Homo sapiens: one gene and its partners. The protein of the gene in region 3 purifies or fractionates together with the protein of the main gene of each other region. This does not show direct contact. Each region holds a gene or a part of one and is shown on either strand. Other genes may lie near its edges.

What was found.
Region 1: the proteins of CTPS1 (region 3) and DFFA fractionate together in Homo sapiens (co-fractionation; one large-scale study listed by BioGRID). This does not show direct contact.
Region 2: the proteins of CTPS1 (region 3) and PINX1 purify together in Homo sapiens (co-immunoprecipitation; one large-scale study listed by IntAct). This does not show direct contact.
Region 4: the proteins of CTPS1 (region 3) and GSPT1 purify together in Homo sapiens (affinity purification with mass spectrometry; one large-scale study listed by BioGRID and IntAct). This does not show direct contact.
Region 5: the proteins of CTPS1 (region 3) and BCAR3 purify together in Homo sapiens (co-immunoprecipitation; one large-scale study listed by IntAct). This does not show direct contact.
Region 6: the proteins of CTPS1 (region 3) and CFAP298 purify together in Homo sapiens (affinity purification with mass spectrometry; one large-scale study listed by BioGRID and IntAct). This does not show direct contact.

What each region holds. Positions count from the first base shown.
Region 1 is NC_000001.11:10,465,291-10,470,338, forward strand, and holds part of DFFA (DNA fragmentation factor subunit alpha), read right to left. Parts: intron 4,049-5,048; coding exon 3,887-4,048; intron 2,043-3,886; coding exon 1,900-2,042; intron 1-1,899. UniProt on the Homo sapiens protein: Inhibitor of the caspase-activated DNase (DFF40).
Region 2 is NC_000008.11:10,833,376-10,836,875, forward strand, and holds part of PINX1 (PIN2/TERF1-interacting telomerase inhibitor 1), read right to left. Parts: intron 1,401-3,500; coding exon 1,291-1,400; intron 1-1,290. UniProt on the Homo sapiens protein: Microtubule-binding protein essential for faithful chromosome segregation. Mediates TRF1 and TERT accumulation in nucleolus and enhances TRF1 binding to telomeres. Inhibits telomerase activity. May inhibit cell proliferation and act as tumor suppressor.
Region 3 is NC_000001.11:40,977,429-40,983,137, reverse strand, and holds the start of CTPS1 (CTP synthase 1), read right to left. Parts: upstream 3,443-5,709; 5' UTR 3,309-3,442; intron 3,109-3,308; exon of another isoform or gene 2,577-3,108; intron 2,547-2,576; exon of another isoform or gene 1,152-2,546; coding exon of another isoform or gene 1,144-1,151; intron 1,099-1,143; exon of another isoform or gene 1,027-1,098; intron 1-1,026. UniProt on the Homo sapiens protein: This enzyme is involved in the de novo synthesis of CTP, a precursor of DNA, RNA and phospholipids. Catalyzes the ATP-dependent amination of UTP to CTP with either L-glutamine or ammonia as a source of nitrogen.
Region 4 is NC_000016.10:11,887,861-11,892,908, forward strand, and holds part of GSPT1 (eukaryotic peptide chain release factor GTP-binding subunit ERF3A), read right to left. Parts: intron 3,280-5,048; coding exon 3,202-3,279; intron 1-3,201. UniProt on the Homo sapiens protein: GTPase component of the eRF1-eRF3-GTP ternary complex, a ternary complex that mediates translation termination in response to the termination codons UAA, UAG and UGA.
Region 5 is NC_000001.11:93,586,898-93,591,945, reverse strand, and holds part of BCAR3 (breast cancer anti-estrogen resistance protein 3), read left to right. Parts: intron 1-778; exon of another isoform or gene 779-2,526; coding exon 2,527-2,969; intron 2,970-5,048. UniProt on the Homo sapiens protein: Acts as an adapter protein downstream of several growth factor receptors to promote cell proliferation, migration, and redistribution of actin fibers.
Region 6 is NC_000021.9:32,602,378-32,607,198, forward strand, and holds part of CFAP298 (cilia- and flagella-associated protein 298), read right to left. Parts: intron 1,907-4,821; coding exon 1,748-1,906; intron 916-1,747; coding exon 784-915; coding exon of another isoform or gene 712-783; exon of another isoform or gene 1-711. Other genes in the region: CFAP298-TCP10L (uncharacterized protein LOC110091775), read right to left, coding at 784-915, 1,748-1,906. UniProt on the Homo sapiens protein: Plays a role in motile cilium function, possibly by acting on outer dynein arm assembly. Seems to be important for initiation rather than maintenance of cilium motility.

The DNA of each region.
Region 1 (5,048 bases), about 31 Mb from region 3:
GAGTCTTGCTCTGTCTCCCAGGCTAAAATGCAGTGGCGTGATCTCTGCTCACTGCTACCTCCCCCTCCCAGGTCAAGTGATTCTCCTGCCTCAGCCTCCTGAGTAGCTGGGATTACAGGTGCTTGCCGCCACGCCTGGCTAATTTTTATATTTTTAGTAGAGACGGGATTTCACCATCTTGGCCAAGCTGGTCTTGAACTCTTGACCTTGTGATCCACCCTCCTCAGCCTCCCAAAGTGCTGGGATTACAGGCGTTAAGCCACCGTGCCCGGCTGTATTTTTAGTAAAGACGGGGTTTCACCATGTTTGCCAGGATGGTCTTGATCTCTTGACATCGTGATCTGCCCGCCCCGGCCTCCCAAAGTTCTAGGATTATAGGTGTGAGCCACCACGCCTGGCTTTATTTATTTATTTATTTATTTTTGAGACAGGGTCTTGCTTTGTTGCCCAGGTTGGTGTGGTATAGTCATGGCTCACTGAAGCCTTGACCACCTGGGCTCAAGTGATCCTTCTGCCTCAGTTTCCTGAGTAGCTGGAACTACAGGCACACGCCACCACACCTAGCTAATTTTTGTAGAGATAGGGTTTTACCACATCAAACTCCTGAACTCAGGCAATCTGCTCACCTTGGCCTCCCAAAATGCTAGGATTACAGGTATAAGCCACTGCACCTGGCCTACAAAAATTAAAAAAAAAAAAAAAGAAAAAATAGCGCAGTGTGGTGGTGCAAGCCTACAGTCTCAGCTACCTGAGAGGTTGAGGTGGGAGGATGGCTTGAGCCCAGGAAGTCGAGGATGCAGTGAGCTATGATCATGCCACTGCACTGGGTGACAAAGCAAGACCCTGTCTCAAAGAGAAATTTTCTTTGAATGAAAACATACTGTTTTTATCCCAATCTTTTTTTTCTTTTTGAGATGGAGTCTCTCTCTGTCACCCAGGCTGGAGTGCAGTGGTGCGATCTCGGCTCACTGCAAGCTCCACCTCCTGGGTTCAGGCGATTCTTCTGCCTCAGCATCCCGAGTAGCTGGGACTACAGGTACAGGTGCACACCACCAGGCCCGGCTAATTTTTTGTATTTTTAGTAGAGATGGGGTTTTACCATGTTAGCCAGGATGGTCTCGATCTCCTGACCTCGTGATCTGCCCGCCTCGGCCTCCCAAAGTGCTGAGATTACAGGCGTGAGCCACTGCACCTGGCCTATCCCAATCTTACTAGAGAGAAAACACAAGGAGAGAAGCTAAGCTACTGGCTCAAAGTCGTGGTGACAGCGCTGGGATGTGAAGCCATCTACTCCAACGCTACATTCTCTAGCAGGGCATCCCTGACCCCAGCGTCCACCTAACTAGGTTTAGGGTGGATCCCAGGCATTTGTATTAAAAAAAAAATCTGGCCGGGCACGGTGGCTCACGCCTATAATCTCAGCACTTTGGGAGGCTGAGGCAGGTGGATCACTTGAACTCAGGAGCAGCCTGGCCAACATGATGAAACGCTGTCTCTACTAAAAATACCAAAATTAGCCAGGCGTGTTGGTGTGCACCTGTAATTCCAGCTACCTGGGACGCTGAGACAGGAGAATTGCTTGAACCCGGGAGGTGGAGACTGCAGTGAGCTGAGATTGCACCACTGCACTCCAGCCTGGGCGACAGAGTAAGACTGTGTCTCAAAAAAAAAAAAAAAAAAAAAAAAAAATCCACAGGTAATTCTGCTTCGTGACGAGGGTTGAAAAATTACTCTAGGTGAGAATGAGAAGATGAAAAATCTTAGTTGTAATTTAAGAATTATTTAAAAATTAAGATTAAAACAAAGAAATTGCTATGGCAAGTATGGAAGCTAAGAAGGTGCTGGGGCGGGGGGCAGAGGCTGGATGAACATTGTTGCAGGTTGTGGAGGAGGCTTTACCTGGAGGTCCTCCTCTGATAGGAGGATGATGCTGGACAGATCTTCTTTCAGCTGCCTGGCCACATTCTTCCACTTCAACCCTGCCCCGCTGTCTGTTTCATCTACATCAAAGGACTCTTGGGAAATCCAAGCTGTACCTCCATCTGACACATGGGAGAAAATGCCAGTCACAGAACAACCTGAAGTGCTGTTTTCACCTCCTCCCCCAGCACACACAGACCTCTTGAGGATCTAGATTAATTTCAATGGGAAAGAAGCATCTTATCTCAAGGATTCACAGGAGGGTCAATATCCATCCAGGACCTTGATTTTCCCTCTTCTTTCATTTTTTTTTTTTTTGAGACAGAGTCTCACTCTGTTGCCCAGGCTGGAGTGCAGTGGCACGATCTTGGCTCACTGCAACCTCCACTGCCCGAGTTCAAGCGATTCTCCTGCCTCAGCCTTGCAAGTAGCTGGGATTACAGGTGCCCACCACCATGACCAGCTAATTTTGGTATTTTTAGTAGAGACGGGCTTTCACCATGTTGGCCAGGCTGGTCTCAAACTCCTGACTTCAAGTGATCTGCCCACCTCGGTCTCCCAAAGTGCTGGGATTACAGGCATAAGCCACCGTGCCTGACCCTCTTTCATCTTTATCTCTGTGTGCAACGGCTCTGTATTCTTCCATAGAAAAAGCCATTTAAACCCAATGTGTGGTCACACCTACAAGGAATCCAATCACACTTCCCTTTCTGGTTTCTGTGTGTCCAGGTGTGTCCTGTTTTTTATACGAAAACGGTCATTTGTGCCAGCATTTCTCTGTGCTTGGGGATTGGTCCCTTCTTTAACTGGCAGAGCTGTAGCCATCGATTGCTGTCCCTTAGGCCTGAGCACAAAGGTGGCTGGTAGGGCCACTGCTGTAGGATGACTTCCTCAATTTTGTGGCACACTTCAGGACACTTTTTTTTTTTTTAAGTCCCTCCCTAAAACTAATCCCCTCTCAAGACACTTCTTGATCCTTGGTCACCAATGTTAGTCCCCTTTCTATCTCCTGTGATGATGATGATGGCAGGGACAGGTAACAATTATTGAGTCCTTAACTATGTGCCAGGTAAGATCTAAACACTTCATATCAGTGGTTCTCAAGTGGGAGCAATTTTGCCCCCCAGGAGACATCTGACAATATCTGGAGTCATTTATTCTTGGTTATCACAGTTGTGGGGGGAGGTTCGTAACATCTAGGATGCTACTAAACGTCCTATCATACACAAAGCATCCTCTTCACAACTCCAGCCCCAAATGTCAGCAGTGTCATTGAGAAACCCTGGTTTGATATGTACTATATTATCTTTACAACAATCTTAGGGGACAGGTTCTATAATTATTATGTCAACAAGGCACTGAGAAGTTATGTAATTTGCACAAGGTCACCTGGTTAGTAAATGGTAGAGCCAGGATCCAGACCTCAACAGCTGGACTGCAGCCTGCAGCACTGAGCTCCCTGCCAGGCTGCATTTCAGTTGCTGTCTGTCCATGAGTTAGTTGAGAACTGGGCCCATGTCTCATTCATCTATTTTTTTTTTTTTTTGAGACAGAGTCTCGTTCTGTCGCCCAGGCTGGAGTGCAGTGGCACAATCTCAGCTCACTGCAACCTCCACCTCCCAGGTTCAAGCAATTCTCCCGCCTCAGCCTCCCAAGTATCTGGGATTACAGGTGCCTGCCACCATGCTCAGCTAGTTTTTGTATTTTCAGTAGAGATGGACTTTCGCCATGTTGGCCAGGCTGGTCTCAAACTCCTGAGCTCAGGTGATCTGCCCACCGTGCCTGGCCTCATTCATCTTTATCCCCAGGACTCAGCACCATGTCTGGCACATAGAAAGTGCTCAGTAAATATCTGTTGAACAAATGCTTAAAAAGCCAGACAAATGGCAATTGTCTGTGCAGTGAAAGTAATCATGATGGATGCTGTACTGCATAGGCCGTTTTATACATGGCTAGAGTTTCTTACCTGAATTGTTGTATGCCCATTTCTCATTACTAGCCAATGCCACAAACTTAGTATTGGAAGGTAGACACAGAAAGTAATCGTCATCATCCACTATGGTGCCATCCTCTGCCAGGACCAGGGTGACTGGTGTCAGGGACTTATCAATGGCCAGAATGTCACAGGCTGAAAAGAATAAAATATTTGGCAAATGACAAATAACCGTAAGGAAATTACATCTATCCCTGCATCTCAAGTATGTATGGCTCCAGAGCTGAGCAGAACTCCTGGTAGGTAATAACTAGAATCACAATCATCACTTCTAGCACTACCAGAACACTCATCACGTGCCTGATTCTGTTCTAAGTGTTCTTTTCTTTTTTTTTGTAGCAGGGTCTCACTCTGTTACCCAGGCTGCAGTGCACTGGCGCGATCTCGGCTCACTGAAACCTCTGCCTCCCAGGTTCAAGTGATTTTCCTGCCTCAGCCTCCCGAGTAGTTGGGATTATAGGCGTGCACCACCATGTCCGGCTAATTTTTGTATTTTTAGTAGAGACGTGGTTTCACCATGTTGACCAGGCTGGTCTCGAACTCCTGACCTCATGATCCACCCGCCTTGGCCTCCCAAAGTGCTGGGATTAGAGGCATGAGCCACTGTGCTCAGCCCTAAGTGCTTTTCTTTCTTTCTTTTTTTTTTTTTTTGAGACAGGCTGGCGTGCAGTAGTACAATCTTGGTTCACAGCAACCTCCGCCTCCCGGGTTCAAGCAACTCTCTGCCTTAGTCTCCCGAGTAGCTGGGACTACAGGCACCGGCCACCGTGCCTGGCTAATTTTTGTATTTTTAGTAGAGACGGGGTTTCACCATCTTGGCCAGTCTGGTCTGGAACTCCCGACTTAATGATCTACCTGCCTCGGCCTCCCAAAGTGCTAGGATTACAGGCATGAGCAACCGCGCCTGGCCTAAGTGCTTTTCATATACAGTATTTAATCTCATAATAATCCTGTAAAGTAGGTACTTTTATTAGTTCTGTTTTATAGATGATGAACCCAAGGCTCAGAGAGGTTAAGTAACTTGTCTAAGATCACACAGTAAGTGGCAAAGCTGGGATTTAAACCCACAAAGTCTGGCTCCTGAAAGTATGTTTACTCCAGCTACTCCACACTCATGTATGGTAGGCATTTGAGT
Region 2 (3,500 bases), on a different chromosome or scaffold from region 3:
TAAGGATGACATGATCTAATTTCCATATTTTAAAAGATCATTCTGGCTGCTGTACAGCAAATGGGCCAGAGGAGAAAAAGGAGGGAGGAAGGGAGGCAGCTGAGAGTCTGACCAGTCAGTGAGCTCAAGTGATGACAGTGGCTGAAGCAGGGCTCTGCCCTGCATGGAGAAGAGACGACTGGGGTGCGGGAGGCTGGAGAAGAGACGACTGGGGTGCGGGAGGCTGGAGAAGAATGACAACTGGGGTGCGGGAGGCTGGAGAAGAATGACGACTGGGGTGCGGGAGGCTGGAGAAGAATGACGACTGGGGTGCGGGAGGCTGGAGAAGAATGACGACTGGGGTGCGGGAGGCTGGAGAAGAATGACGACTGGGGCTGCGGGAGGCTGGAGAAAAACGACGACTGGGCTGCGGGAGGCAAGAGGGCGGAGGAATCAAGCATGACTGTCAGGTTTCTGGCTTGTGTAAGTGGCAGACGGTGCCATGTATGAAAAATGGGGAAAACCTGGGAAAAATATATTTGGGGGAATCAAGAGTTTTATAATAGAAATGATACCCTTGAAATGCTTACTCAAGTGGAAATATCAAGTAGGCTATTGAATTTACAAATCTAGAGCTCAGAGGACAGAACTGGACTCAATATAGAAAAATGACAGTTCCCAGACTTTAGCTAATTCAAAGTGTGGCAAGGGAATGAATGAGATCACTGCAGCAAAGTGCAAAAAAGGGGCCTGAGGTTGAGCCTCAAGGAGCCCTAATAATCAAAAGTCTATAGAAAGAAGAGACAGCAACAAATTTAGGAGTGGCAAGTGAGGTGAAAAGAAGAGCAGAAGAGACAATAGCACTGTGGAGGCCAAGACAGAAGTATTTCAAGGAGAGAGTAGTCAATTACATCCAGCACTGCTGAGGAGTTAAGTAATGTGAGAACAAAACAAGCGGCCCACTGATTTGGCACTTAGAGATCGCTAAAGACCTCAACAAGAACCATTTAAGTGTAGAGGTATCAGCAGAGGCTCTACTGGAGTCAAGAATAAATGGAAAGGGAAAAAGCGTGTAGCCTAGTTGCAATGTCTATGAAAGATGCTAAGCATGGCAGCTTAAATGATAGAAAGTTGACACTTATGTCCAATCCTAATTTATCATCATAAGGTCACAACAATTTTTGATTTGGGATCAAAATCACTTACTGATCCAAAGCATAAGTTTCTTCCAGTCTCCTAAGAAGGAAGTTTTCCCCTAATTTCTAATCTCTTTTCATAGCTCAGATTTTTTTCCGCTTTTCTCCAAAATACCTTTCCTTTAGACCACCCCATCTTCTCTAGCATCCGCTGGCCAAACTTGGAATCGTCATTACTCCAGGCAGTGTTCTGAGGATCCACAGCCCACTTCTGCTTCCGCCGACCTGTAAATGAAAAAGCATTATCATCAGCAATGGAGATGATACCCGGAAAATACCACACAAACATACACATGCACAACTTTGTGTATTTTATGTATGTATGTAAAATATGACATACATTACAATACAGAAATTAATTCAACACTCAACAGAATGTTAGACTGGATCATTTATCCTGATTTCCCTAATAAATGTATATTCTAGACATATAAGTTGACCTCTTAAGATTAAAACTGAAATGTTCCCTCATAATGTGGCAAAGCAAATGCTCAATATACTAGAGCTGGGCCTTCCATACTCCGCCATCAGCACAACTGAAAGCACCTGTGGACACCAGCATCCTCATCACCATCAGCAGTAGTAGCAGCAGCATTACAGCTTCCATTGCCATGCGTTACTACATACAAAAGAACATGCAATACCAAGGATGCGCTTAAAATAGTAAATGCCAATTATTCAACCTGAGACCTGCTCCAAACGCTGTACATAATATTCAGTTTTCACAGTACCCCAACGAGTGTGGATAGTACCATTGTCACTGGCAGATATGAAAATCTGAGGCTTAGAGAAAGAAATTTGCCGAACATCCCCAAGCAAAAACCAGATCCTTTAAACCAACCTTGGTCCTACTAACTTCAAAGCTTATATTCTTAATTCACAACATACAATAGTCATTATGCTCTTGGGGAGAGTCAACTGTACCCTCCACACATGTGACCTACAGATAATAACAATCCCATCCCTCTCATTGAGATGCCCTGAAGCCCTCTGACCCCTCTTTGAACTTCTAGAATAACTTATCTGTTTCTTAACATCCACTGTATTAGGGCTATTTATATCCGCCTTTCCGGTTTCCCATTAGACCATCATCTCCTTAGGGCTCATATTCATGTCTTTTTTCTGAGGCTTCATTGCAAGAAGTAAAAAAATCACTGTGCCCACAGCAGGCACTCAATAAATATGTGAATGGAATAAACGATAAAAATGAAGAATGGAAAGAGGAAGAAAGGAGGAAAGAAGAGGGAGAGGAAAAAAGGAAGGAAGGAGTATAACTGAATTAAGGGAACTGCTTTGAATCTCATCAAAGCAACTTTTTTTAATGCATATAAATTACTGATCATTATGAACTCCAGTTTATCACTGTCGTTTTAAGGAAAATTATGGCAAAAATAAAGAACTCCAAAGGTTCAAAGCACAAGAATGTCAAACTGAAAAGTAGACTGTGGCGAAATGAGAAATTTGGAGGTGTCATTATCATTTATCTGCCACATCAATATAAGCACATTGTCTCACCATCAACACAACCCCTCCTACCTTGCCCATCTCATCACATAATTAAAAAATAACATGACCCCCTGTCAAAGGGGCTCACTGTGGCACACATAAAATCAATAGAGGCCCATAACTATGCACACTCCAGCAAAAATAGGAAATCCTTTACAAATACACAGGCAGAAAAAAAGGCCCTTAACAAAGCAAAACAAGTTGGGCTCGAATTTGTAGTGTTTTGCAGAAAAAAAAAGGTGACCCAAAAATGTTCCATCTAAATTACCACTTTACTTATCTTGGCAAATACTCAGCATAACACTGCGTCTGCTAATGAACAACACACCAGAGAGAAGCCTGTTAGCCAGTATTCTATATGCAAGCTGGCATCAGTGTGTCAGAGTTCATGTGTCTATGCAGTGCTTGCCAGGGGTCTTTGACTAGGGCTTGTACGAAGGAGACAGTTTTGAGAATAAGCTCACGCTCTGCAGTTAAGAACTGCACACGCTTCACATTACCTACTTATATAAAACAAACTATAATGCCTACACAAGAGATTAGCTATTCAAGGTCAATTCCTCTCCCCTGGGAAAATGGCAGTTAGCTTCAATCAATGGGATCACACCAGTGTTTCCAAACAAGGATGTTGGGGGGGCGGGGGGTGGCAGTTTCCCATTGAAAATGAGTAACACTGGGTTAAACTAAATTTCATATGGAAGAATCTCCCGGAAACTTTACTATGCAAATGTGCAGATCCTCTTAGAGGAGGCCAGAGCAGGCCTGCCATGCTTCCCAGACTTCACTTGACCAGAACCCTGCTTCCCTGGAACATTTCCC
Region 3 (5,709 bases):
TCTCGTCAGGTTTAAATAGGATCAAAACAAACATTTCTTGGATCACTGAATGGCTTTAGTCAAATACGTGTAGAAAAACAACTGCTACTCTAATAACACAGCTTTTGTTTAAAGCTTTGACAACTAATAACCTTCAGAGTCAACCTAATAAAACCAGCTCTAAGCTGGCTGATAGAACACTACACCCCAAATGTTTGCTGACATCACTGCCAGACACTGGGATACCAGGCAGGTGCCTCATTATTTTCCCTACATGGGAAAAAAATTCAAACTTGGATAAGTACTCCAGTTCTCCAGGAAATAAATAATGTCTTTGGCTAAACTACAACATATCATCAAGAAAACACAGCTCCTCTAGGTTACAAAAGATAGACTAAAAGGAAAGAACATCAACATTTAAAAGTGGTTGCAGCTAAACCAAAATTCCTTTAATTAAAAGTAGTTCTCTGGCTGGGCATGGTGGCTCATGCCTGTAATCCCAGCACTTTGGGAGGCAGAGCCAGGAGGATCACTTGAGGTCAGGAGTTCGAGACCAGCCTGGCCAATATGGGGAAACCGCATCTCTACTAAAAATACAAAAATTAGCCGGCTGTGATGGCGCACGCCTGTAGTCCCAGTTACTCAGGAGACTGAGGCAGGAGAATCGCTTGAACCCAGGAGACAGAGGTTGCAGTGAGCTGGGATCATGCCACTGCACTCCAGCGTGCGCGACAGAATAAGACTACCTCAAAAAAAAAGAAAAAGTAGTTCTCTTCTATAATTTAACAACAACTTGCTCCTTGTCAGAAATCTCTCCCAGGCATGCAATGAAGAGAGACTGTAAATACTGGGGGAGAGGGACATCAGATAAGAAACCAGTCTGAAGCACATGACGGGCAGAGGACTCAAAGAGAGGGGAGATGAGATTAAATCCAAAAAGCAGTGCCACGGTGGCAGGGAAAGGAGAAATAAGATATAAGGGCAGCAGAGTCAAGATGCAGGTGAAAACAGCATCGACAAGAGGTGAGGAGACCGTGACAGGCTCACCACGGAGGATTTATCACTGGTCCCCAGCTTCAGAGGTCCAGGATCGTCCATTTGGTCAGCAAACCCAAATGTGACCAAAATGAAAAACACAATTAGAAAGTAGCAGAAAATGCTTACTTTGGCATGGTCAGGACATTTTCCTCCTCAGGAACGTTCCATGTGAAGCCAAATTATGATAAAAATAAACTAAGGAACAAGAAAACTAAGGAGTTGTGCTCGAAGCATTCCCCCGCCCCACCCCCTCCCCAGAGCAAGAAAGAACACACTTGGCAGGGAAGGAAGAATGCTCAGAAGTCTTCCCCGCTCCAAAGGCTCTTTGCATCCTCTGCTGCAGCATTTCCAAAAGCATGCTCCCTGGTTTCAACAAAATGCACATGGGATTCTCAAAAAGGGTGTTATGGATATAAATCAGAGAAACGCTGATTAAACCAAGTCATTTAACGCAAGAATCCTGGGAGTGTTTAGCAAGTAAACTCGCACTGTGATCACTGCTATACAGTATGCGGTGTCTCCAAGCTTATCTGACCCTAAGTCTCTCACTTTACAGTTCCTTATTGACACATGAAAATCAGTCTTAGGTACATTTTAGATATGTTCTAACCAGACATATACCTTACTGAGACTATACCCTGGTCTCCCTAAGTTTTGGATGATCCTAGAAATTCCTCTGCCACCGAGTGAGTTACTTCTACAAAAGATTCATCTCATCCAATTACATTTGATTTGTCCCAATTTTACTCTAAGAGTTTAACATCTCTCTTTACGTTCTTTAGTTTCTCTCTTTAGATTCTTGCAGTCTCAGTGCCTGGCAATACATATGCCAGTGTACATAAAGATCAGGCGGGAGGCTCATTCATTCATCCTTATGGGCTACTGACTTACATGACAGCTACTGTGCTTGGGGACTGCAAACATTAATCAGATTTGGGCCCATATCTCAACTTTCTGGCAGTCCAGTTGGAGAGATGAAACATTAACAAATAAATGAGTAATTCAGTGACGGTGGAAGCAGACAGAAAACATGTTTAGACTATAAAGGGGGACGATGAGAGCAGACGCTTTCAGTACCATGGCCATCAGAGGAAGGTGAGACAAGTCCTGGGGGTAGTGGGCGGATCCAGGCGGCTCCTGTTTTGTAGATATGACTTGCAATGGGCCTTGAAGGACTGACTGCACGACTCAGAGCACAGGAAAGGGAACAGGGTGAACAGGCAGGTGCAGGGCAGCTACAGAGAACAGAGGTAAGGCCGTGAGGGGGAAGGCGGGGAAGCAGGGATATACAGTGGAAGATAAACTGGAAAGGTAGGCAAGGGCCAGATCATGTGCAAACTGGCATGCCCAATCTGAACTTAATCCTGAAGGTGACGGAAGGCGCAAGAAGGTTTTCCGGCACAGAAGTAACGTAAATCAAGACGCATCAGAGAAATTCAACAAAGACTGAGGGGGGAAATGCTTTTTCTTTCAATGTTATGAGATGAAGTGCCAGCCCCCATCACTAGTGTGCAGACCTCAATCATGTCACTTGAGCTGCCTGCAACGCGGGTTCTCACCTAGGGGAATGGGGGTGAGAATCTCTGCGCCGCCCGCGTCACAGGGCCGCTGAGGATTCGAAACTGTAACGAGCGTGGACGGAAGGGCGCCACGCAAACGTGGTGAGCTCTATACACCGCCAGCGCCCCGACCCCCGGCCGCCGGGAAGGGAGGAAGCCGTGAGGCCCAAAGGCCAGCCGCGGGGCCCAGGGCCGGCGAGTTCGCAGGCCCCCTCGTCCTACGGCGCGGAGCTGCCGCGCCCAGCCCCGGGCGGCTGAGCCCGCGCCGAGGCCGGAGGCCCGAGGCCCGCACTGCTTGAATGGATGGGCGACTGCCGGGCTTCCTCGCAGACGAAGAGCAAGGGCGGAGGGTGTGGGGGGGGGCGCCGCTCCACTCCCCTACGGCCTTCTCCGTCCGACGAGCCCGGCCGAGCTGATTCGGCGCGGCCCAGCGCGGCAGCGCAGGCCCCGCAGCCTCTGAAGCCGCCCCGCGCCCCGCTTGGCCCCTCTCCCCAGCGCCGCCCGGCCACGAGGCCCGCGCGCGGGAGCCGGCAGCTCGCCGGCCGGGGCGCCCGCCCCACTCCCGTTAGGCACACAGCCCATTGGGCAGGACGCCGAGTCACCTCGCCCCTGATTGGTAGGAGCGACGTCCGTCACCGCGGCGGCGGGGCTATTCGGCGCCGGGCTCAGCTCGCGCCGCTGACTCCTGCGCGGGAGAACAGATCCCCCCCGGGATCCCTGGAGTCAGCCTACCTGCGGCCGGCTTCAGATCCTCCCGTCAGCGACAGAGCTGGGCCGGCGACGCGCGCGGAGCCCCGGACAGCCAGTGAACAACCCCGACCGCATGCGCCCGGCAGTCTTTCACGGAGGCGGGCTCTAGGCTGTGCGCACGCAGAGGTTGGAGGGCGGGCCGGGCCTGGAGGGCGCGGGGCGGGGCGGGGCCTGGAGTGCGCAGGCGCGGGACAGGACCGCTGGGCCGCCTCCGCTGAACTGTGCCGCCGTAGGTTCGAGGCCGGGCGGGTGGTGGCGTGTCTGCCCCTCTGCTTCCGTCCCAGCCTGTGGCCCAAGCTTACTCTCTTGAAGGGGAGGAGGCTGTTTGGGAACTCACGCCTGGCCTATTCGTCACCTGGCCTCGCGTCCTCCCACAGCGGTCTCCTGGAGTTCTGGGCGTCGCCTTCCATCCGATGGTCTTTCACTGTGGGCTCCTGGCGGTGATGCGCCAGCGCATCTCTGCCTCCGGGCGAGGGACGGCGGCAGCGCCACCCTGGCCTCCAAGACGGAAGTGCGGAGGGTCGCGCGGCGTTGGCTCCTCGTCGGCCTCCCTCCTCCCCACACCTGCCCCGAAGGCGGCTGCTTTGGATGGACTAGGATCCCGAAAAGTACGGTTTCATCTAGCTATCGCTCCCTGAGCACCGACTGTGCCACGCACTGTGCTGGGCACCGAGGGACCCTCTCCTCGGACTAACGATGTAGGGAGGCACACTGAGCAGCTCATTACACTTTATGGTTGTTATGGGTGCTTGCTGCAGAGATGCTGGTGCCGGGGCAGTGAGTGCCCAGCGCGGGGACTGACCCAAGTCCGGTGGTGATTGGGAATTCAGGCGGGAAGCCCGCCCTGAAAAAGTAACTTTGAAGCAGAGACCTAAGTAGACGGCAAAGATGGGAAAGGGAGAGGCGGGGATAAGAAAGTGAGACATGCTTGAGCCCAACAGTTCGAGACCAACTTGGGTAACATAGCGAGACCCCGTTTCTTATAAAAATAATAATAGTAGGCCGGGCGCAGTGGCTCACACCTGTAATCCCAACATTTTGGGAGGCCGAGGCAGGCGGATCACAAGGTCAGGAGTTCAAGACCAGCCTCGCCAATATGGTGAAACCCCGTCTCTACTAAAAATACAAAAATTAGCTGGGCGTGGTGGTGGGTGCCTGTAGTCCCAGCTACTCAGGAGGCTGAGGCAGGAGAATAGCTTGAACCTGGGAGGTGGAGGTTGCAGTGAGCCAAGATTGCACCACTGCATTCCAGCCTGGGCGACAGAGCGAGACTCCTTCTCAAAGAATAAATAAATAAAATAAAAATAGTAATAATAATTTTTTTTTAAAAGTGAGGCAGAAGGAAAAGCCTGTGTACAAGCCCAAAGAGGCCGGCACAGCTGAATTGGAAGGCCAGTCTAGCCAAGTCCACAAGGGCCACAGGAAGCGAGATTAACATGAGATTAGGTTGAAGAGTTGGGTAGGGCCATACGGTGAAGAGCATTATAGACCAAGTAAAGGCTTCTCTTTCTCCTAGGGATAGTGGAAAGCTGTAGAAACTTTTGAGAGGCTTTTGACCTTCCTTTGAATAGTGAATATATGTACATGGTTATAATTTTTCCCCAAACACTACACAAGGGTATCCATGAAAAGTAAATCTCTTATTTCTGTACCCCAGTGTTCCTGTTTTGTTCTCTAGAAGCAGTCTGCCACAAGTTCTTAACTATCTTCACTGAAGGAGTTTTAAAAAAAAAGATGTGATGGGATCAGATTTGTGTTTTAGGAAAATCATTGAAGCAGATGGATTCCCAGAAACCAGGTCAGGAGGCTCCTGCAGTGGCCTCTTTTAGAGGCTTCTGGCTCCTTCCAGATCTGGATCACCAGTGCTTCAACCCTGACAACCTGCCCATGCTGCATTCAGCTCCAAATCTAAAAAATGTTTGGAATGCCAGGCATAGTGGCTCACACTTGTGATCCTGACACTTTGGGAGGCTGACACAGGGTGGGAGGATTTCTTGAGTCCAGGAGTTCAAGACCAGCCTAGGCAATATAGTGAGACCCCATCTCTACAAAAAATACAAAAATTAGCTGAGCATGGTGGCACGCATCTGTAGTCCTGGCTACTCCAGAGCCTGAGGCTGGAGGAATGCTTGAACCCAGGAATTCAAGGCCAATGGGAGCTAGGATCCCACCACTGCACTCCAGCCTGGGCAGAGTGAGACTCTATCTCAAAAAAAAAAAAAAAAAGTTTGGGTTGTCTTTGAAGGTACTCTACAGCCACATCTTCTTTCAAGAAGCATTTGATGTTTATCAAAGTGCCTGGAACATAACAGATGCTGAGAACATACTTGCTGAGGTAATGAAGATGCTATGGGAGATGGAAAAATGAGCCATTCACCCAACC
Region 4 (5,048 bases), on a different chromosome or scaffold from region 3:
AAGATTGGTGAAATGAAAATTGAGCCGGGTGCGGTGGCTCACATCTGTAATCTGAGCACTTTGGGAGGCCAAGGCGGCGGATCACAAGGTCAGGGGTTCGACACCAGCCTGACCAACATGGTGAAGCCCTGTCTCTACCGAAAATACAAAAATTAGCTGGGTGTGGAGGAGCCCACCTGTAGTACTTAGGAGACTGAGGCAGGAGAATCGCTTGAACCTGGGAGGAGGAGGTTGCAGCGAGCCAAGACCGTGCCATTGCACTCCAGCCTGGGCGACAGAGCAAGGCTCCGTCTCAAAAGAAAACAAAGAAATTGAAAGAATAGGGCTGGGCGCAGTGGCTCACGCCTGTAATCCCAGCACTTTGGGAGGCCGAGGCTGGCAGATCACCTGAGGTCAGGAGTTCGAGACTAGCCTGGCTAATATGATGAAACCTCATCTCTACTAAAAATACAAAAGTTGGGCATAGTGGTGCACACCTGTAGTCACAGCTATTTCGAAAGCTGAGGCAGGACAATCGCTTGAAGCTGGGAGGTAGAGGTTGCAGTGAGCCAAGATCGTGCCATCGCACTCCAGGCTGGGCAACAGAGGGAGACTCTGTCTCTCAAAAAAAAAAAAAAAGGGCTAGGTGCAGTGGCTCATGCTTGTAATCCAAGCACTTTGGGAGGCCAAGGCAGGCGGATCACCTGAGGTCAAGAGATTGAGACCATCCTGGCCAACATGGTGAGACCCCATCTCTACTAAAAATACAAAAATTAGCTGGGCATGGTGGCGGGCGCCTGTAGTCCCAGCTACTCGGGAGGCTGAGGCAGGAGAATCGCTTGAACCCAGGAGGCGGAGGTTGCAGTGAGCTGAGATCGCGCCACTGCACTCCAGCCTGGTGACACAGTGAGACTCCGTCTCAAAAAAATAAATAAATAAAATAAAACTGAAAGAATGTATTATTTTGATTCAAACCCTTAGAGCTTTTATATAAACGCAGTCAATTATACCATCTAGAACTTTATGGCAAGTTGACTACACAGAAAGACTAACTACAAATGCCAATATCACTGTGTGTTAAGTGATAATGAGCTCCCTTATTACTTCATTTTTATACTCACATGGCACAAAATACAACACAAATAATGGCTGTCTTGAGAGTTAAAGGGTAATAATAAAACTTTTTTGGATGGATGCTGTGGCTCACGCCTGTAATTTCAGCATTCTAGGAGGCTGAGGCAGGCAGATCACAAGGTCAGGAGATTGAGACCATCGTAGCTAACACGGTGAAACCCTGTCTCTACTAAAAATACAAAAAATTAGCCAGGCGTGGTGGCGGGTGCCTGTAGTCCCAGCTACTTGGGAGGCTGAAGCAGGAGAATGGTGTGAACCCAGGAGGTGGAGCTTGCAGTGAGTGGAGATGGAGCCACTACACTCCAGCCTGGGCAACAGAGCCTAGGTCGTGCCCGGCACCCCCACCCCTCTTCTTCTTTTTTTTTTTTTTTTTTTTTTTTTTTGGAGATGGGAGTCTTGCTCTGGCCAGGTTGGAGTGCAGTGGCACCATCTCGGCTCACTGCAACCTCTGCTTCCCAGGTTCCAGCTATTCTCCTGCCTCAGCCTCCCAAGTAGCTGGGATTACAGGTGCCCACCACCACGCCCGGCTACTTTTTGTATATATATTTTTTGAGATGGAGTTTAGCTCTTGTTGCCCAGGCTGGAGTGCAGCAGCACCATCTCGGCTCACCGCAACCTCCGCCTCCCAGGTTCAAGTGATTCTCCTGCCTCAGCCCCCCGAGTAGCTGGGATTAGAGCATGCGCCACCATGCCCAGCTAATTTTGTATTTTTAGTAGAGACAGGGTTTCTCCATGTTGGTCAGGCTGGTCTCGAACTCCTGACCTCAGGTGATCCGCCTGCCTCGGCCTCCCAAAGCGCTGGGATTACAGGCGTGAGACACTGTGCCCGGCCATTTTTGTAGTTTTAGTAGAGACAGGGTTTCACCATATTGGCCAGGGTGGTCTCGAACTCCTGACCTCAGGTGTGATCTGCCTGCCTTGCCTCCCAAAGTGCTGAGATTACAGGCTTGAGTCACCGCGCCTGGCCCAATAAAAGTTGTTTTCCTTTTTTCTTTTTTTTTTTTTGACATGGTGTCTCACTCTGTTGCCCAGGCTGGAGTGCAGTGGTGCAATCTCGGCTCACTGCAACCTCCGCCTCCCGGGTTCACGCCATTCTCCTGCCTCAGCCTTCCAAGTAGCTGGGACTACAGGTGCCTGCCACCTTGCCCAGCTAATTTTTTGTATTTTTAGTAGAGACGGGGTTTCACCATGTTAGCCAGGATGGTCTCGATCTCCTGACCTCGTGATCCGCCCGTCTTGGCCTCCCAAAGTGCTGAGATTACAGGCTTAAGCCACTGTGCCAGGACTAAAACTTTTTAATAAAATAAAAAATAACTGTCCTCAGATATTTTTGAAAACTGAAAGCCACTAACGCACCATGTGGGAGCAATGGTTACTTGCTAAAAATTGCTTCAATATCACACTGCCAGGCAAAAATTCATATAAATTCAAACCATCCGTAATAGTGGGCATTAATTTAGCTTACCTCATCATCTTCACAGCATGTCCTCAATTTTTTATAACAACACTGACTAGCATTTCTCCCGCTTATTTTAGAGGAATATAATTTTATTTTAAAAAAATGACTGTCAATATCCCATTGAGGTAAGGCTTGCTAACTTTTTAAAAATAAAAGTAACAAGGTTAGAAAACAAAAAAGTTGACTGTCTCACCATTCAAAGGCAACCACTGTCAATAATTCCATTCCATTTTATTTCCAGCATTTATTTATATAATGGTCATATCTTAAGTACAGGGATGTTTCCTGCTTCCCCCCAACTGCCACCACAACGCAAGTTCTATTCATGGTTACTATAAATTATGTAAATGTAAGTTTTCAGTGGTTGCAAAATCACCCAATTAAATGGATGGTTTATAGTATTTTCAACAAGTCTATCACCAGATATATGGATTGTTTCCAAATTTCTCTGTGTAAGTTATTAAAGCATTAGGAACTCATCTACTGTGTATTATGAGGAGAGGGGAAATTTCCTTTGTTGTGATACGATTTTAGACTTCAACAATTTATATTTTAACAGGCTCCAAAAGCACTAAGTGGGCATCGTCTCCTTAAAAGTAATTTATAAGTGTCATAAAAGTTTACTATACCAAGTTTCTCTGTTTTTCTCTTTAGCTTCTCTTTCATACTTTTCAAGCGTCCTTTTGTCAACCATTCCAGTCAAATACCTGAAAACATTTAAAGAAAAAAAAAAGTAAACAATTACTCACAAATTACTCAGTGGAATTAGGAAAACGTGAAAATTGTCGAAAATTTCAACGTCAGAAAATAGTTATTTTATATGTGTGTGTCTGTCTAAAAAAATATAAAATATATATATAACATATATAACATATTTTTATATAAAATATATTACACATTTTTATATAAAATATATATATTACATATATATATATATTTTTTTTTTTGAGACAGAGTTTCGCTCTTGTCATCCACCTGGAGTGCAATGGCACAATCTCGGCTCACTGCAACCTCTGCCTCCTGGGTTCAAGTGATTCTCCTGCCTCAGCCTCCTGAGTAGCTGGGATTACAGGCACCCACCACCAAACCCGGCTAATTTTTGTACTTGTAGTAAAGATGGGGTTTCATTACGTTGGCCAGGCTGGTCTCGAACTCCTGACCTTGGGTGATCCACCTGCCGCAGCCTCCCAAAGTGCTGGGATTACAGGCGTGAGCCACCACGCCTGGCCATATTTTTTTTTTTTTTTTGAGACAGGGTCTCGCTCTGTCGCCTAGGGTGGAGTGCAGTGGCGTGATCTCAGCTCACTGCAACTTCCTCCTCCTGGGTTCAAGCGATTCTCCTGTCTCAGCCTCTCAAGTAGCTGGGATTACAGGCGTGTGCCACCATGCCTGGCTAAGTTTTTGTATTTTTAGTAGAGACTGGGTTTCACCATGGTCAGGCTGGTCTCGAACTCCTGACCTCAAGTGATCTGCCAGCCTCAGCCTCCCAAAGTGCTGGGAATACTGGCATGAGAACCACCACGCCTGGCCAGAAAATAGTTAAAGTAAAGGAACCACTGGTGGATGCTAAAATTATGGAAAGTGTAAGTGGAAAAAGGATATTTACAGTCTCGAATTAACAGACAAAGTGGCCTGGTGTGATGGCTCATGCCCGTAATCCCAGCACTTTGGGAGGCTGAGGTGGGAGGATCCCTTGAGGCCAGGAGTTTGAGACCAGCCAGTGCAACACAGTGAGACCATCTCCACATAAATATTAAAAAATTGGCCTGGTGTGGTGATGCATGCCTGTATTCCTAGCTACTTGGGAGGCTGAAGTGAGAGGATCACCTGAGCCCAGGAGTGTGAGGTTACAGTAAGCTATGATTCCACCACTGCACTCTAGCCTGTGTTTAAGAGCAAGACCCTGTCTCTAAAAAAAACAAAAAATCAGGCCAGGTGTGATGGCTCATGCCTGTAATCTCAGCACTTTGGGAAGCTGAGTTGGGAGGACTGCCTGAGTCCATGAGGTTGAGGCTGCAGTGAGCCATGATTACACAACTGCCCTCCAGCCTAAACAACAGGGAGACCCTTTCTCAAAAAAACAAAAAAAACAAAAAAAACAAAAAATAAAAAATGGCCGGGCACGGTGGCTCAGGCCTATAATCCCAGCACTTTGCGAGGCCAAAGCAGGCGGATCACAAGGTCAGGAGTTCAAGACCAGCCTGACCAACATGGTGAAACCTCATCTCTACTAAAAATACAAAAAAATTAGCCAGACGTGGTGGTGCATGCCTGTAATCCCAGCTACTTGGGAGGCTGAGGCAGGAGAATCATTTGAACCCAGGAGGCGGAGGTTGCAGTGAGCCAAGATCACACCACTGCACTGCACTCCAGCCTGGGCGATAGAGATTCTGTCTCAAAAAAAAAAAAAAAAAAAAAAAAAAGAAAAGAAAAGGGAAAACAATAACCTTATAGTGGACAATCTTGACAGATGACA
Region 5 (5,048 bases), about 53 Mb from region 3:
CCAGGTAATTGAACTCTTGGCCAGCTGCCAGCAGCCTCAGACCATTTGCAGCCCCTCCTTCTCAAGGCAGTGGCTTAGCTTCGGGAGGAGAGAGGGCAGGTGGCCCAGATCAACAAGGCTGCCTCTGCCCCATTGAGCTGGCAGTTATTCACACTCTCCATCACTTCCCTACTGGATCCTGTGACCCAGAGGTGGGAAAAAAGGGGAATTAAACCCATGACCACAGACTCATGGCCCAGAATATACTTTGTGATCGTCATTTGGGTGATTGCCATAAATAATGTTTTTTCATTTAATACTGTAAAAATTGAAAAATAGAGTAAGTCTGCAGAATTGAGGCATAGAATTTCCCTTGGGTTTTTATTGTAAACCTGATCTGGCCAATCATTAACCAAGGACAACATGACAGGAAGTGTGTGGACAGGGGCTGGGGGGAAGGGCATCATGTCGTAAGTTTTTTTTCTTTTTTTTGAGACAGAGTCTTACTCTATCACCCAGGCTGGAGTGCAATAGCACAATCTCAGCTCACTGCAACCTCTACCTCCTGGGTTCAAGCGATTCTCCTGCCTCAGCCTCTCTGGTAGCTGGGATTACAGGTGTCCACCACCATGCCCTGCTAACTTTTATATTTTTAGTAGAGACGGGGTTTCACCATGTTGGCCAGGCTGGTCTCGAACTCCTGCCCTCAAGTGATCCACCCACCTCAGCCTCCCAAAGTGCTGGGATTACAGGCATGAGTCACTGTGCCCAGGCTTTTTTTTTTTTTTTTTTTTTTTTAATGTAGTAGATTTCTTGGCACAATCAAATAAATAATTATTATTCTGACTTTGTTTTTTTAAGTTTAAAATTGATTGTAGAAAACATAGATAGCAAAAAGAAGGAAATTAAACTCTTATCCATAATTCTCCTCATAATTCTCCTGGGGATAACCACGATGAATACTTTTGTGTACATACATCCTCCCGGGCTTTTTGAAATCAAGTATGAGATTGTACTACATATACTTTTTTGGTAGCCCATTCTACTCACTTACTATGTCCTGGGAATTTTCACCCACTGTAGAATATTCTTCTGCACCAGCCTACATTGTATGTCTGTCCACGGTATGCATGCACTACAATTTACTGGACACATAGGGTGTTTCTAATACTCTGACCAATATCCTTTAAGATTGCTGTGTTCATACCTACAATTATTTTCACAGGCTCAATTCTAAGAAGTGGCATTTCTATGTGAAAACATTTTTAAGGCAAAGATGCAATTTTAAAGTAACCATGGTAGCCTACTATTTTGACCTAACAGAAGTATACTGTTGATCAAATGTTGGAATGTTCCAGAAAAATTGTCAGAATTATAAAACCGATACTATCACCACCGTCCGTCTCCTTATCATGGTCATTACATTCGTTTACTACTTGCATGAGTATTAATTTTCAGTGATAAATCGTTCCAAACTGGATAACTGAACACTATAACCATAACCGTAATAACGAGTTATTGCTAACATTTTAGCCCCTTAAATCTTTGTAGCCATTCTATAGGTAATATTATCATTTGTGTTTTTCAGATGATATAAGTGAGCCACAAGGAGATTATGTAATTTGTCCAGAGTCATACAGCTGAGCCAGGATGCAAACCCAGGTGGTCAGGCTACAGGAACAGCCAGGCTGCACCACATTATAAATTCTCCAGTTGCTGTAAGCAGCAGCATCATGCTTGTTAACTATTTTTGAGCATCCACTGTGTTCCAGTGCTTACATATGTTATGTATACAAATACATAACCCTGATAGTAACTGTAAGATGAGGGACCCCAGCCTGACTTTGTTCTAGGCCTTCTAGCCAGTAATTGGTGTGTCCAGAATCTATACCCCAGTCCTGCATGTGGACTCCTCCTCCCCACTGGCCAGGCCTGGAGAGGGGCATCTTAGGAGAGGGCCCCTAGGATGACTTCTAGACACCAACAAATACCCTTCTTTCTCTTCACTCCACTTGTTGGGGAGGGAAAATCAGGCCTGCCAGGCACACATTTTCTCATTTCTTATTTCCTGTTTCATTACATCATTCAGGTCTGTATAAACGTCATGTTCTTGTGACACCTCCCCAACCACCCTATTTTACTGGACAGCCCTCATCCCCTCCCCGGCACTTCCTGCCTCCTTTCCTGGTTTACTTCTTCCCTGACCTTACAGCTGACATACCATAGCCACTGGTTATTTATCCTCACTAAAACAGAAGCTCCCCACCAAAAACAGGAGCTCCATAAGGTGGGCTCTTGTGTGCCACTGTCACCACTGCATCCCCTGAGCCTGCAGTGGTGCTTGGCACGAGTAGGTGGTCAGTGAATAGTTCTTGAATGAATGATTGGCTCTTCTATGAATTTGATCTTTGAAAAACTAAAGAGCTGACCCAAGAAGAGACATAGTAGCATTGTCTTCTGTTGGCCCAGAGAAGTGGGTAGCCATAAGCTTTTAGAAGGAATGTGAATTTGCCTTTCCTACTCCTCACTCACCTTTTTGTCCCAAAGGTGTCTGAAAACCTTGTGCAGCGAGATGGTGACTTCCTAGTTCGTGACTCTCTGTCCAGCCCTGGGAACTTTGTCCTGACCTGTCAGTGGAAGAACCTCGCTCAGCACTTCAAAATCAACCGGACAGTTCTGCGACTCAGCGAGGCCTACAGCCGCGTGCAGTACCAGTTCGAGATGGAGAGCTTCGACTCCATCCCCGGCCTGGTGCGCTGCTACGTGGGCAACCGCCGGCCCATCTCCCAGCAGAGTGGCGCCATCATCTTCCAGCCCATCAACAGGACGGTGCCTCTGCGGTGCCTGGAGGAGCATTATGGCACCTCCCCAGGCCAGGCCCGGGAGGGCAGCCTCACCAAGGGAAGGCCGGATGTGGCCAAGAGGCTGAGCCTCACCATGGGTGGCGTCCAGGCCCGAGAGCAGAATTTGCCCAGGGGAAACCTCCTCAGGTAGGTCAGGGCCTCCTCTGCAGGACTATGAGGGGCGCCGGGGTGCCCAAGGTTAGTTAGGCAGGTGAAGAATTCATCATGGAACAAAGAAATAAAAGATGTTAATAGGAATGCCGACTGTTCGCAGAATAGCTGTCACGAGGCAGTGAACAATTAGCTCCCAGCTGAGCAGTGTCAGCAATGAATGGTACAGGAGCTGAGGAAGAATTTCGGGGGGTGCTGATGGGGATACCTTGTGAAGGGGGTAGACTTAGGCTGGTCTGATGGCTGGGGGAAATTTGGATAGATGCTGCAAAGGGCTGGGGGTGTTCCAGGTGGGAGGCATAGCATGGGCATAAGTGTGGGGACAGAAAATGGTATGAAGAGCTTGAAGTGAATGTGCTGGTAGGGCTGGAACAAAGGGTCTGTGCAAGGGACCCGTAGCAGTGGGCTTAGGGAGATAGCCCCAGCCAGATCATGGGGGCCTTAATGCCAGGTGCAGGGCTTTAAGGGAGCTGTACAGACTCAGCATAGCGAACACGGTGTCCTAAGAATAGAAATGGACAGTGATGTACCGGGGGTGAGGAGAGAGACAGGAACAGGAAACCCAGTTAGTGAGTCATGGAGGGCCCCGGCTGCAGGAGTGGAGTGGAGGGAGAGTCAAGAGATGTAGGAGCCTGGCCTCCCAGGACTCTTCTTCACGTGGTAGAGTCAGAGGAGGGCACATTGGAGACCACAGGAGTGACCAGGAGGGAGGGGACTTTGGAGGATAAAACACACTTTTTCATCTGAGCTGGAAGACTATGGGCTTGTTGAGTGCCACAGTCCAGCAGCAGTTTTGGGGTCCAGGAGGGGAGTTAGAGCTGAAAACTTAAATTAGGGCTTGGTCCACCTGGAAAGGGTGGTTCACTTGGTGAGAACAGATGAGATTTCTAAGATAGGAGATGCAGAGAACATGGGGTCTGTAGTCTGAATCTCAGGGAATGGGGGAAGAGAAAGATTCAGGGCACTTGGTGGAAAATCAAGGCTTCAAAACCTCACTGATCCTAAGCACCCAGCTGTCAAATGTCAGCGACGTTGGCCTGCATTTGTATAGGGCCCGTCTTTCACAGAGCTCAGAGTCTTTGTGCATATTATCTAAAAGCACTGGGAAAGGAAAGGAGGGAAAAGGCAGGCATCGGGGACATAGATCCAGTCCAGCCCCTCAGTCACACAGCAGCCCTGACCCGGCTCCCAGCTTCTAATCTTATGCACGTAAACCAACATATTTTATTCTACTCACTGGTTTTTTTTTTTGGCGGGGGGGTCCATGAGGAAATGTCATAAACTGTCATTTCTATACTGCAAAACTTAGGGAGGAAAATACAGGACTCTGTGTGGAATGTAAATGACAGCTGTGTGCTGCCTGGAGGCTCCGGCACATGCTAGTCAGCATCTGGCTGGGGACCCAGTAGCCAGGCACAAATGCCGGCTCCACATTGGGCAACTTTTCAACCATGGGCAAGCGACTTGACCTTCCTGGGCCTCACCTTCTTCATCTAGAAAGATGGAGCTTGTGAGGTGTACATGATTTAATATATGCAAAGTGCTCAGAACAGTGCAGGCACAGAGGAGGTGCTAGGGAAGTGCTCATGATAATTATTATCTGGAGGAGAGTAGAATGTCAGACTCAGACCCAGCACAGTGGCTCACAGCTGTAATCCCAGCACTTTGGGAGGCTAAGGTGGGCAGATTGCCTGAGCTTCAGAGTTCAAGACCAGCTTGGGCAACATGGCACAACCCTGTCTCTACAAAAAATATGAAAATTAATATAAGGAGCTCAAACAACTCTATAGGAAAAACTCTAATAATCTGATTTTTAAAATGGGCAAAAGATTTGCTCTTTTGAGAAATGAGTATTTCTCAAAAGAAGACATACAAATGGGCTGGGCATGGTGGCTCACGCCTGTAATCCCAACAATTTGGGAGGCCGAGGCAGGTGGATTACCTGAGTTCAGGAGTTCAAGACCAACCTGGCCAACATGGCAAAACCCCATCTCTACTAAAAATGCAAAAATTAACCAGGTGTGGTGGTGCACGCCTGTAGTCCCAGCTACTAGG
Region 6 (4,821 bases), on a different chromosome or scaffold from region 3:
GAGAGCAGAGCAAATTGTGGATTAAGGTGTTCTTAGAGTGACAATCCTGAAGTTACAACAAATGTTTTACGATTGCCTTTGCCGGCTACTAAAGATAAACAGGTCCCCCATGTCTGATCACCCGAAGTGAAGCATCAAGGGAAGCCTTGGTCTTGAGCAGCCCTGAGCCCTGGACTCTCACTGTGTGGAGACCAGAGGCTGCACGATACCATCTCTGTCTTGACCATTCCCAAGGCAGACACTGCAGGCAGGTCCAGTGGGAAAGGGAGGATGCTCAGAGCCACGGACTCTGGATCTACATAAGGTGGAGGGCCCCATTTCCCCAAAATCACAGCCTAGTGACGTAGGAGCACCCACAAAACCAAGGCGGCCCCTCAGGTTACAGCGCTACACGATGTCCTTCAAAGGTCTCGAACCTTTCCTCCTCCCCCTCCTGTACACAGCATCAGCAGTTTGAAAAAGCCTGAAATCAGTGACGGGCGAAATTTTACATTTCAAGGAACATATCTGTTTACTTGCAGCCCTATTTTTACGCTTGAAATTAACATAGTATATTTCCTCTCCCCCACATATTAAAACAAACTCTAGATATTGGTACTCAATCCATATTTTCTTCCAGTTTTTGTTGGTGTGCAGGAAGAGGATATTTTTAGTTTAAACCCGAGCCAATAAGATTAAAATATTTGTACCAGTAGTTTAAATCTTTCGGATTCACTGTACATTTTTATCAGTTTGAAGGGAAATAACAAAAACTACTGACACATTAAAGCAAAAAGTACTTACTTGCTGAATCTTGGCGATAATTTTGGTTTTTTCATTCTTCCCCACGTAGTCTGAAAGCTTCTTCGTTCTTCTCAGCTCCTTGGCTGCCCACCACAGCTGCGCCTCTGCCTCTTTAATGACGTTGAGCCCTGCCTGGGGCCAGTCGTAAGAATGGCTTGACTGTGTGTTCCCACCCAGGGGGCAGAGCCCAGCTGAGCCCCTCCCAGCAGGGGGCAGGGGACAGATTTCTCCCCGTGCTCACCATGGGAGGCCTGACTCCCGCACCTCACTCTAAGTCCTTGCTGACTTTAGTACCTTCCCTGTTAAGTTTCCACTCATGCCCTGACTCAGTTAACTTCCTCCTCTGGACAACAGGGAGATCCTATCTCATTTGCACCTTGATCCATATAGTTCGTCTTAGACAGATCTGTAGGCCACTGCCAGGGAAGGGCACTGGCATCGTGCTGGGTGTTTAAATCGAGGTATAAAGGGGCTGCCTGTTTACTTCTGCATATTTCATTTATTTAACATGGCTTAGACAAAGAATATTGTCCAATAGGATAAGAAGTGAGAAAACCCAAGGAAAATGGAACATGAGGGTCAGAAAATAACATGAAGCAACAGGTAAGACTAGAAACACAAATTTCCATGCAAAGGGACTGACGCATTTGGGTAGAAATAGGAAGAAATTAGGTAGCTGGCTTCCTAGCAGCCAAAGACAGTGGAAATGTTTGCAGTCACTCCTGATGAGCGGCCTCACAAACTGCGTCCACTGCCTCCTGTGTGTGGGGCCAAACCCCTCACTCATGAGTACCCACTCTCAGGGGCTGCTCCTGAATTCAGAACTCTGCTCTGAAGCAGGGCATAGCAAACCTGAAAGCTGTGTAGGGAGCAAAACACTACATCCAGAAGAGGGGCATCAAATCTTAAGGGCTTTGGGGGCCAGGAACTCAACCTCCAGAGTACCCACTCACAAACTACGTACCTGTGTTCCCGACAAGTCTTCCTTATTTTCAAACTCCATGCGGATGGGATCATACGGTGGCAACCCCATGGGGTAAACAATCATCACCGCGCCTCGAAGCTGGTCCAAGGCATCTTTCACCATCTCCATGGTAACACAGACACCGGCTTCCACTTGTTTCTGCAAGCAGAAAGCCATCGTTATCTACAGTGTGGCTAATCACTTCCATAAATTCGATCAAGATCTTGTACAAGACCCTTGCCAGATACTGCCAGAGCAACAAAAAGAAATCAAACAGTTCTTGCTCCCAGAGTGACTACCATCTATTTCAGGGGCTGAGCGAAGCACACCGTGGCCTGTATTATAAAGCAGACGGTGAGCAGCACTGAGCATGGAGTACAATGAAGTGCAAAGAATTCTCAAAGGAGAAAGAGCCCAATGCTGGCAGCACAGATGGCAGTGAGGATCGGGAGATACGGCAGGGGGAGCAGGCACCGCAGGTGGGCCTCGAAATGCAGATGGGCTGAAAAGGTACAGATGGCAGCAGGTGCTTCAGGACAAGCTGAAACAAAGAAAAGCAGGCGCCAGCCCCCTCAGCATGGGGCAGGAAGGAGAGAAGATGAGGCCAGCTCTAGCTGGATCAGCTGAAGTTTGTTTTTGAATGGCCACAAAAGCCAGGCTGAAGAGTTCACCTTTCCTCTGTTAGGCCACGGGAAGCGACTGCCTTTTCTGGGAAGGAGTGGTAATGTTGAGAGATTTATCTTGTAGCTGATATAGAACAGACCTAGTTGGCCAGATGTGGTGGCTCACACCTTATGTAATCCCAGCACTTTGGGAGGCCGAGGTGGGCAAATCACCTGAGGTCAGCAGTTCGAGACCAGCCTGGCCAACATGGCAAAGCCCTGTCTCTACTAAAAATACAAAAATTAGCTGGGCGTGGTGGCAGGTGCCTGTAGTCCCAGCTACTCAGCAGGCTGAGGCAGGACAATTGCTTGAGCCTGGGAGGCAGAGGTTGGAGTAAGCCAAAATCGTGCCACTGCACTCCAGCTTGGGCAACAGAATAAGACTCTGCCTCAAAAAAAAGAACAGACCTAGTTGGAGGGAGACCAGGTAGCAGGCTCTGAAGAGTACAGAGGAAGGTGTGATGAAATAACAAATATATCTGGTCTTTGCTACTCAGTTCCAGGCACAGAGCTCCAAAACTCTTGGAATTTCCTGAGTGACAGGAGTGTCTTGTTATTTATAACGAGCCCCTTCTCACCATACCTGAGCTTGTGCTAATACAGTAACCTGTAGTCCGCGCTGGGTTTCAAGGAAGGGGCTGGCCGTGCCTGGGAGACCAAGCACATAATTAGAGGGTTGGAGCTTTCGGCCTCACTCCCTTCCTCCACCTCCAGGCGCTAGAGGTTGGGATCAAACACGTGGCCAGTGGTTTAAGCCATCATGCCTACTGAACAAAAACGCTATAAAAATCCCAGACATCATGGCTCAGTGAAGCTTCCTGATTGGTGAAGACGTTGATGTGCCGGGTGACACACATCAGTGGGGGCGTTGTGGGAAGCTCCAAATTTGTAGTCAAGCTGGACACAAGTATGGGTGGCCTGGGGACCTCACGTGCAGCTGGTGTCTGAAATAAGAGGAGTCTTGTTGGTGATCTCACCCTTTAACTTTTAGGTCTGATGCTAACTCCAGGCAGTTAGTGTCAGAATTGAAGGATCTGCCCTTGACCTGTGGGGTCTGTGCTGTCTCTGAGTAGTTAGTGTCAGAACGGAATTGAATTGACTGGCAGGACCCCCAGTGGGCATCAGAATGCAAAAGGCTACAGGAGAGCCTTAAAGAAAGCCACAGCTGTGGAAGTGAAAGGAAGAGGTGGACTTAAGAGGCATCATGGGAGCAGACGGTACAGAACCCCACTTCAAACCTAGAGGTGACAGAAGGGAGAAGTGTTGAAGATGACACTGAGGATTTGCCCTATAAAACCAAGACACTGTGGTTCTGTTACTGGAAACAGAGAAGCTCATAGGAGGTGCTGATTCTCAGGGACAGAACAGAGAGGGAGAGGAGTGAGGAAGCAAAGAGCTCATTTCTAGAAAACTGGACTTCAAAGTGCTGACTGGGTGTTCAGATAGAACCATCTCACAACCAGCTGGAAATTCAGGTTGGAAGTGAAGCAAGATGTCAGGGGGAAAGGATGGAAGCTTCAGAGTTATCTGCAGAGGGTGGAATTTGCATTTGGCAGAGTAGATAAGATACTGAGAGAGGAAGAAGACCAAGGATAAAAAGTACTTTCAGAAGTACACAGGCAAAGGGGAGAAGTGAGGCGACCGAGAGAGGAGTTCCACAGCAAAGTGTGGGGAGAAGGGTGCAGAACAACAGCCAGACCACTGTTTTCTTGCCATGGCCTGAGACGTGCTCACATGCCTAGATGCCATCACCACGCAAACGACGGGCTCAACCAGGGCCTCTCCTGTAGAGCTTCATAAAGCCTTTCCTATATTAACAGGCACAGAGCTTCAGGGCAGCCTTTGCTGAGGCTCTTCAAAGATTAGTCAAAAGCTTGGTAAGTTTGAGAAATATTGGTTTAAAAATAACAGTTCTGCTGAGCAAACCAGGAGAAGCAGAAGAAAAAGTGGTGATCAGTCAAGAGACTTGCAGTTGAGAGCGGTAGCAACTAATATCACCAACACACAAATACAAGCAACAGATACAGATACCACTTCTTTCAATAGCCTTAAATTCTCTTCCTCCAGATACACATTATCTGTATATCAATGGTATAAATTTACGCTCCTCCCTCTATAAACTAGCCTTTGTATAAAATGCTGAAGACAATTACAAAAAACCATTTATATCAAATACATATTAAGTCAATCAAGTGTCTGGAGAGCTACTCGATGGCCACAATATTCAAATCTCCCCTACTTAACTTTGTTAAGTTCTTCAAAAAGGTAAAAGAAATGAAATCAACATTTGTATTATACATATTTGTATTATACGTGAACCTATATTTACATAAGCCAACAAAAATTTGTGTCTGCCTGGAGGAACGGAGAGGCCTCTGGGCAACCGTCAGGATTATGAAAGGAAAAGCTACA